Linked DNA regions of Homo sapiens: region 1 is linked to region 2. Evidence: fine-mapped expression QTL. A gene starts in region 2. The other region holds a variant in brackets. All regions are shown on one strand. Distances are between the middles of the regions. Region 1 overlaps ITPR1 (inositol 1,4,5-trisphosphate receptor type 1). Region 2 holds the start of ITPR1 (inositol 1,4,5-trisphosphate receptor type 1).

Region 1 (4,280 bases), 60 kb before region 2:
TTTATCACTCAGAGAATGGCTGATTACACTCTGGCACATCCATACTATGGAATAATCCTCAAATGCTGAAAAAAACTAGATTGTAGATTAGTAAGTTTCCTCCATGTCTTTTCATGGCTTCATAACCCACTTATTTTTAGCACTGAGTAATATTCCATTGCCTGGATATACCATGGTTTATTTATTATTTTGCTATTGACATTAACAAAAAATGGGTTAAGAAAGGAGTCAGGTGAAAAAACCAAATTGCAGAATAATAATTACGGGTTTAAGAAAATTCATAAAAATGTATGTTTTAATATACGCCTATATGCCTTCAAATGAATAGGAAACATCCTGGAAAGATACACACCAAACTGCCAAAAGCAATCGCTTGCCTCTGAAGACCAAGTTTCTAGTCCTGTCTCTGTAATAACTACCTGTACAATCTTGGCTAAGTCACCTAACTCAGGAAACACCTAAGGTAGTTTCCTCACCTTAAAGCAGGAGAGGCAGGGATGACTGGATTCAGTAATGCCTCTAATTGATTCCAATCCCCCAAATACCCTGACTTTGATTATGGGATTCTGGTGCTTTCTACAAATAAAAACACTGAATTCTCCAACACTTCATCCTTTATTAGAAGCCCTATGGAACATGGTGTGTTGTTTCAAAAGCACAGCCTATGACAGATGGAAACACATTCCGCGGGTACAGTTCCATCCCCAGATCATGCTCTCAGTAACGAAATCTTTCTTCACCCCTATTCCCCACACATGAATGCTGTGTGCTCCTAGAGAAGATAATTGCCTTATCCATTGATATATGAGCAACAGTTCTTTTATTGCCATTTTTGCTTTTTTCCCCAGATTGTCATCAGAAATGTATTTACACTATCATTCATAAACATATGTAACCCAATTAATCCACCCACAAGCAGGAAGACAAGAAACTGCTGTTTTAAAATCAGGGGCAGGTTGTCATCCTCCACCCAATGACCAGTGAGACAGATATTTCGAGTCACTGGCCCCCATCATGATTCTAGGTTACCACCGGGTTAACTGAAACCTCAGTCCTCAGTCTCTGCCCATCTGCTCTCTCTCAGGGGGTTGATGTAACCTGTAGCCACACTGTCACTCCTTCCCAACCAGCCTGCCTGCCACCCTACGACCCCTTTCTCTCCAGCCCAACCCACCAGTGAGCTCACCACCGTAGGTCCCCAGCACCTACACCAGTGCCTGGCACATAGCCAGCATCAAAAACAAGGATTCAATTGATTCATGCCCACAAAAAACATTTACTAACTAGGCCAATACACGTAATTACCAGACTAATCTTCCTAAAGGAAAGTACTGATTCCTTCTGCGACTCGGCAAAAAATGTATTCTCTAAAACCTGGAGCACCTATGATGTGCCAAACACTGTACTCATTTCTGACAAAATAAAGAATGATACACTGCTAAGCTCACAGGTATCAGTGGGCCTCTATTCCTATCAAAGAGAACAGAATTCATCACTAACTGTGCCACTCAGTGACTGTTACCTTGGGCAAGATACTTAAACTCTCTGAACCTGTTTCCTCACCAATAAGATGGGATTGCCCTCACTGCTAAATGAAGTAATGAACATAATACATTTAGTGTAGTAAGATACCAATAAAGGTTCTTTTTAAAATTAATAATAGTAGTAAGGCTGGGCGCGGTGGCTCACACCTGTAATCCGAGCACTTTGGGATGCCAAGGAGGGCGGACTGCTTGAGCCCAGGAGTTTTCAAGACCAGCCTGGGCAACATGGCAAAATCCTGTCTCTAAACAACTAAAAAATGTTAGCCAGGCTGGGCGTGGTGGCTCACGCCCGTAACCCCAGCACTTTGGGAGGCCAAGGCAGGTGGATCACCTGAGGTCAGGAGTTCGAGACCATCCTGGCCAACATGGTGAAATCCCGTCTCTACTAAAAATACAAAAATTAGCCAGGCGTGGTGGTGGGCACCTGTAATCTCAGCTACTCAGGAGACTGAGGGAGGAGAATCACTTGAACCTGGGAGGCAGAAGTTGCAGTGAGCTGAGATCATGCCATTGCACTCCAGCCTGGGCGACAAGAAGGAGACTCTGTCTCAAAAAAAAAAAAAAAAGAAATTATCCAGGCGTGGTGGCACGCGCTTGTAGTCCCAGCTACTCAGGAGGCTGAGGTGGGAGGACTGCTTAAGCCCAGGAGGTAGAGGTTACATTGAGCTGAAATCGTACCACTGTACTTCAGCCTGGGTGACACAGCAAGACCCTCCCTCAAAACAAAATAATAATAACAATAGCAAGAACAAACTTCAAATGTCTTAGTCAATCAAAGACTTCAAAATCTGGTACCAATAAACCACTTAAGCCTCAACCTCACACACCCTGTCTATCTGTCAAAAAAATCATAGCTGGAGTCTGCCCATCTGTGTCTTTGGTCCTGTAATTCACTGTAGAAAAATGTCCCACCCCTCTATCCCAACCCTCACTCCATTCATGTTTAATGCCCGCCCATCCTTTGTTGCC[C/T]GGCTTAATATGCCTTCTCCGTAAGTTTTTCTACTCATGACATCACCTCCCACCACAATAAACTTCATCTGTGGTCCCATGGCACTTTAAAACAGCACCTCATCTATTCTTTATAGTGCACTCATTCAACATGCTTTTGTGATGAAAGACACATCTGTTTTCTGACAGATGTTTCACTTTGTGTTGGGGATGCTGGGGTCAACGAGAAAGTCCCTACCCACAATCTAGCAGCGGAGTTAGGCATAAAATAAATCATTACTGTCACATTGTGAAATATATATTTGGTCTTTGACCCTGTTTCCTGGCATACAACCCCTAAAATCCTCAGAAATGCCAAAGTGATGTCTTTTGCATGCTAATGAGTTGACTGGTAGCTGGCAGCCCCCAGGCAGCTTCTAGATGGAGCTGGTCACCAGAAAAAAACAAGGCAGGATTAGAGGGTCCAGCTTTCAGCCCAGAAAGAGGAGAGGGAAGAGAGGCTGAAGGTTAAGTTGATCACCAATGGCCAATGATTTAATCAATCATGCTTACATAATGAAGCTTCCATAAAAACCCAAAAGGACCAGCTTCAGATAACTGAACATGTGGAGGCAGACAAGATGGTGAACAAGAACTCATCCACCCACTGGGAGGATAGTGGGCCCCAACTCCATAGGAACAGAAGCTCCTACACTCAAGACCCTTCCAGACCTCACCCTGTGTATCTCCTCCTCTGGTTATCTGTATCCTTTGTAATATCCTTTATAATAAATGGGTAAACATGCTTCCCTGAGTTGTGTGAGCCACTCTAGCAAATTAATCCAACCCAAAGAGGTGGTCATAGGAATCCAAACTTAAAGCCAGTCAGTCAGACGTTCCAGAGGCCCAGACTGGTGTGTCAGGTGGGAGGTGGGGCATTCTTGGGGGCTGAGCCTCCAATCTGTGGGATCTAATACTATCACCAGTTAAACATTAAAATAGAAGATACCCAGCTGTTGTCTGCTGCAGAATTGATTGCTTGCTTGGTGATGGGGAGAATTTCCCCCACCCCGTTTGTCACAGAAATCTGTGTTGACTGCTGTTGAGTGAGAGACTAGAAAAAGCACTTTGAGTTTGTTTTTTTCCACAATCAGAATTATCCAAATAATTTCTGCATTAGAACTGTGATAAGCATCCTAAACAAAACAGATAAAAATACAAATGGGATTACTTCTGCTATCCTGAGACCTAGATTAAAGACAAGCCTGTTTCACATGGAACCTCCAGAGCATATGTAATAAATGTTCGTTAGAGTCAATCAAATTATCTTTTCTATTAAAAGTTAACTCATTTGAGAGTAGGGACCTTGCCTCAGACAGCAGAGATGTAGTCAAAAAATAAGATACGACTGGTTGCAGCTATTGCTTGTTGACTTACCAGCTATATAACTTAAGCCGACTTCTCTGATTTCAGATTCTTCATGTGAATAAGAGAATAAGCCTTTAGAAACTGTTAAAAGTACTATATACATGGAGTATTATCTGTATCTAGCCCACTACAATTAACACATGCTGTAAATATAGTGAGGGTTTGGCAGATGTTTGCTGAATGAACATTAAGTCCCTGGCCAAGGCCAGGGGTGAGCTCTGTTGTGACCTTGATTCATGAGCAAGAACCAACGTCAGCCCTGAAACAGCTACTCAACCCTTTATAATTAAAACATGGAATAATCTCTCTAGATAAGAAGCATGGACACTTCTTGGCAACGCTGAGAGATTAGAAAGATCTGTTCTCATAAAAAACCCTGTA
Region 2 (4,235 bases):
CACTATAATGAAGTGTCTGACTTTTATTTTCTCATTAGAAAAGCCCAAAGATTGTAGCCCAGGGAACAGCTAAATATTTAGAATGTTAAAAAAGTTATTAAGACCCAGCCACCCACCCCCACCTACCTCTGTTACCCTGTTATTTACCATGTTCCTGAACATTTCAGGAGAAAAAACTCCTGATAGCCAAATCTGCAGCAATAGTGATGTACGTGCACCCGTTGAAACCTCCCACTCTTCAAATGCAGTCTGACCATTTTGGGGAAAAAATAGGAACTGTTGTGTTTACAGATAAATGCTGCTCTCAGCTCATATTCCACCACGGGCCCCAAAACAACAGGGACCTGCCAGATTCCTTGACACTCAGGTGGCTTGAGTCAAGGGCTGGATGCTACCACCTTAAGCTTCAATAACTCACTTCCCTTTTTAAAGTTCTAATTCTTTCAACTTGCAGCAACCACTTTCATTTCTTGCAATCCAACCTACTCTGATTAAGCACACGTTCAAAATTAGAAAAGAGTGACTATTTCTTGAAGGAGAGAGGCAGTTAATACTGCTTACACATTTTGGCATATGAAATGCACTGTATCCTTCAGAATTTAAATCATCAGCATGCTTTTCAGACCGGCAATGGGCCGCCGTTTTATTGCTCCATTTAATGGCCTTTTCCCCTCCTCTCTCATAAACTTTCAGGCTCCTTCAATTCTCAGCTACTTCCAAGAAACGGACTGTCCACTGGACCTCTGCTCCCAAAAGCCCTCACCAAAGGCAGAGGCAAATTTTGAAGACTGAGCCACGGAGTTTCTTTTTCTTTCTTACTCCCCACCTCCTTGGCGGTTTAGATAGAACTTAAAATAGGCTTAGGACAAAAACTCATTATTGACTACAGCACTCAGGCTTCCACACTCACCTGACCTGGGTCAGGCACTCTGTTGCCAAAGCAAGCCCAGCGAGGGGTGCAAATCCTGCTCCTCTGTAGTCAGCTCCTAAATATTTAGAAAGAAAGAAGACTGAGTACCAGACCGCGGAAGATGAGCTCTAACAGAAATGCTCCAAATTACAAGTTTCCACCTTCTTTAGCCTCCTTCACTGGGGACAGCCCCCCCGCCCCCAAACTTGGTAGGCAGGTTGGTGGGATCGCTTGGGCGAAGATTCCAGGTAACTACGCTTACTTATTTCCAGGATGTAACTGACAATTGAGACTAGGCACGCACAAACTTCGAACGTGCGGGAGGCTGGAACTAAGGGAAGTGTTTGGCAGATCCCAAAGCACTTGTTTCCCGGCGAGAAGGCCAAGTATCCGAAGCCCGCATCCTCATTGGACATGAGCTTCGTCCACACTTCATCCCTCACCGCTTCTCCGGTTTTCTTCCGTTTTTAAAAACCCTCCCCACGGGGGGCCCCTACACATGCATTATTCTCCCAACCACGGAGCGCAAGAGAGGGATACATTTTTAGAAAGATTATTTCCTTGAGCAGACTCACATATGACACCCCCACAACCTCTCTTCAAAAAAAAAAAAAAAAAAAGAACTATTTCCTGCAGCTGCAGCAACAGTTTCCAACTTGGGGGAATGCCACATCAGACCAGAATGGGGAGCCCCCAAAGCCACGCACTAGAGTAGAGGATATTTGTTTTTTAAGCTTCAAATGAGCTCCCCCCAAAACAACTGCCCGCAGTAAAGGAACCCCCAAATGCATGCCAAGTGCATGCACATCCATCAAGATCTCCCCGAGAGCGGGGCAAAAACTTCTGCGCCCGGGGAGCCAGTGCCAACTCCCCGCGCCCTCTGCCCGGCCCCAGCCGCTACCTTGGTGCCCGGGGAGCCACGCCGGTTTGGGGGAGCAGGGCGAGGAGAGGGGTTAGCAGCCGCTGGGTAATCCCATGTCCGCGAAGAGGGAGCTCGTTCCGTTAGGATGGAAGCGGAACACCCACACCTCCTCTCGGCGTGCGCTTTCTCTCTCTCCACCCCCTGCCTCCTCCTCCACCACCACCTCCTCCTCCTCCTCTCCTCCCACCCCAGCGAGCTTGAGGAAACGCTTCAGCAGCACATCCACATGGTTACTGCACTTTAAAGCGGCTCCGGGTGGCTTATATAGGCCGGGAAGCTCCCTGGGCAATGTAGTCCAAGTAGCGGGTCGTGGCGGCGCCTGAGGCTGCGGGGAGGGACTACAAGTCCCAGAATCCCCTGGGCGCCCGGGCTGGGCCCTAAATAGACGCGTGCGGGGACAGGGGAGGGGCGTCCTGCGAGGCTTTCAGGCTGCTGAGCCTGTTCCTTGGCTGGGGTCGGTAGGGCTTGGAGCCAGCCGTTCAAAGTCACCCCTGGGAAGCGCCCGCAACCCTTGGGGACGCCTCTCCTCCGGCTGCCCCCCTTCCCTGGAATCCAGGTGTCACTGGGGCCGGGGAGGGGCTAGGAGCTCGGATTTCTGCTTTGGGAAGTTTTTACAAGCCCACCCTCCCCCTGCCTTGGTTCCCCGAGCCAAGAATTTCAGAAATCCGGGGCACAAAAACGCCAGTGTTTGCGGTCAAGGATTAAAGGCGCGAGGTGTCTTTATTTAATCTGCTCCGCCCTGCTCGGGTTTGCACGAGAAACCAAGCCTGGGAGCGACGGTCCACGCAAGCGGAGACACAGGCAAGTCGCGTGAGAGCACTTTTCTGAGCCCGAGTTGCTTGTCTTTTATCGCCCGTGAGGAGGTAAAGAAAGGCAGACCTCTCCGGTGCACAAATAAAGGAGCCGTGTTGTGACTTGCCGGCTCTGAGATTGGGAGGCAGAAAATAAATACAAACCGCGACCTCAGTCCTGACCGTACCTCTAGCAGCCCCTCTGCTCCTGGGAGCTGTAAATGCTTAAGTAAATAAACCGCAAACCAGAAAAATAAGGGCTTAGGAAAGAGCCGCTCACACAGAGATGCGCATCCAGGCGGGGCGCTCTCCAAGAGCTCCGAATGGGGCAAGGTGGGTTTCACCCGCTGCCAAGTAATGCCTGGGCTCCCGGGCTACACGCTGCTTAGGGCTCCGGCTTTTGCAAGGAGGGGAAGAGCTAAGCCCGGAGGCAGTCAGCCGACTGCCCTGTCTTGCCTCAAATGACGTATATTCATTCCTCAAACGTTTCCTGAGTGTTTACTAGGTGCCAGGCGCTGGGGCATAGTGGTGAGCCAAACGCATTATAGCATCCCAGACAGGCACTTCCTGACGCCGCCTAAAGATCTGTTATAACAATAGTAATAATAATGATAATAATCAATGGGGAGGCTGATTTTATTGAGCCCAGACCACATGCAGTTTTCATGCGTCATGCTATTGAGTTTTACCAACTGTAGGTATATTTATTATATCTATTTGGCAGGTGCACAATCCAGGGCTCAGAGAAATCAGGTAACTTCCCAAATGACCCCTCGAGTTAAGTGGTACAGCCTGGACTCCCGTTCCAGACTCTACGTGTATGAAACCCTTGTCTTTGGGGAAATCCACCGCCATTGCCTTAAATAGCCTCTCTCCCCATTTAGGAGCAGCCTCTGAGCCCTTGGGCAAGTCATTTTCATCTCTTTGCCCCAGTTTTGCCATCTGAAGGAAATTCTTATTAGAATATGTCTACTTTTTAGCAGGATTCCTTAATATAAAATCGAGTCTCATGAAACTTTAGGAACAAATTAGAGGAGAATCATAGCTAATAGTTATTACTGACATAATAATGCCAAAACGAATCATAATTATTGACACTTATTGGGTGAATGCCATGTGTCAGGCATTGGTCTAAACTCTTTCTGTATAGCACCTAATTAAATCCTATTAAGCCATTTTTTACTTATGAGAAAACTGAGGGGGGGCACAAAGCGATTAAATTACTTCCTCCAAAGTCACACAAATAGCTGAGTCTTGAACCCTGGTCCTAAACTACTAGTCTCCGCTACCTCCCCAATGTAAACATGTGCACTGTATTTGCCTGCTCAGATAAGCATTTAATGTCAGTCCAGGAAGGGGCAAAGCTCTTGAAATAGACAAAGTTTGTGTTCACGATATTCACTCCTGCCCTCCGTTCCCTGTCAGCATTATCCCCTGGTCACTGGACGCTGGGGTCTAGTGCCTAATACGTTAAGCTGCTTCTCCCCATCATCAAGAAACTGCCGCATCTGCCATATAAAGGAGATGTTTCTCATTCGCCCCCACTCATCTCTTCCCCCATGAAAACCTCTTCCATTTTCAAAGGATCTTCGGCTCTACTTTTCAAGCAAAT

The links. PIP is the estimated chance that this variant, and not a neighbour inherited with it, causes the effect. A credible set is the group of variants that fine-mapping cannot tell apart.
Region 1: its variant is the best candidate, but not a certain one, in a credible set for the expression of ITPR1 in lung (GTEx, PIP 0.53).

Annotation. Positions count from the first base shown.
Region 1 is chr3:4,551,432-4,555,711 of GRCh38, reverse strand. The region is part of intron 4 of ITPR1 (inositol 1,4,5-trisphosphate receptor type 1); the gene reads right to left. Among named protein-coding and RNA genes, the nearest start is that of ITPR1, 60 kb to the right of the region's middle. The variant C/T (reference allele first, on the strand shown) is at 2,514.
Region 2 is chr3:4,491,182-4,495,416 of GRCh38, reverse strand. ITPR1 (inositol 1,4,5-trisphosphate receptor type 1) reads right to left here and starts at 2,069. Exons shown (of 62, transcript NM_001378452.1): 1 at 1,812-2,069; 2 at 911-986. It overlaps ITPR1-DT (ITPR1 divergent transcript), which reads left to right and starts at 2,254. Exons shown (of 2, transcript NR_108075.1): 1 at 2,254-2,633; 2 at 4,049-4,235. RefSeq lists silencers at 138-432, 1,731-2,000.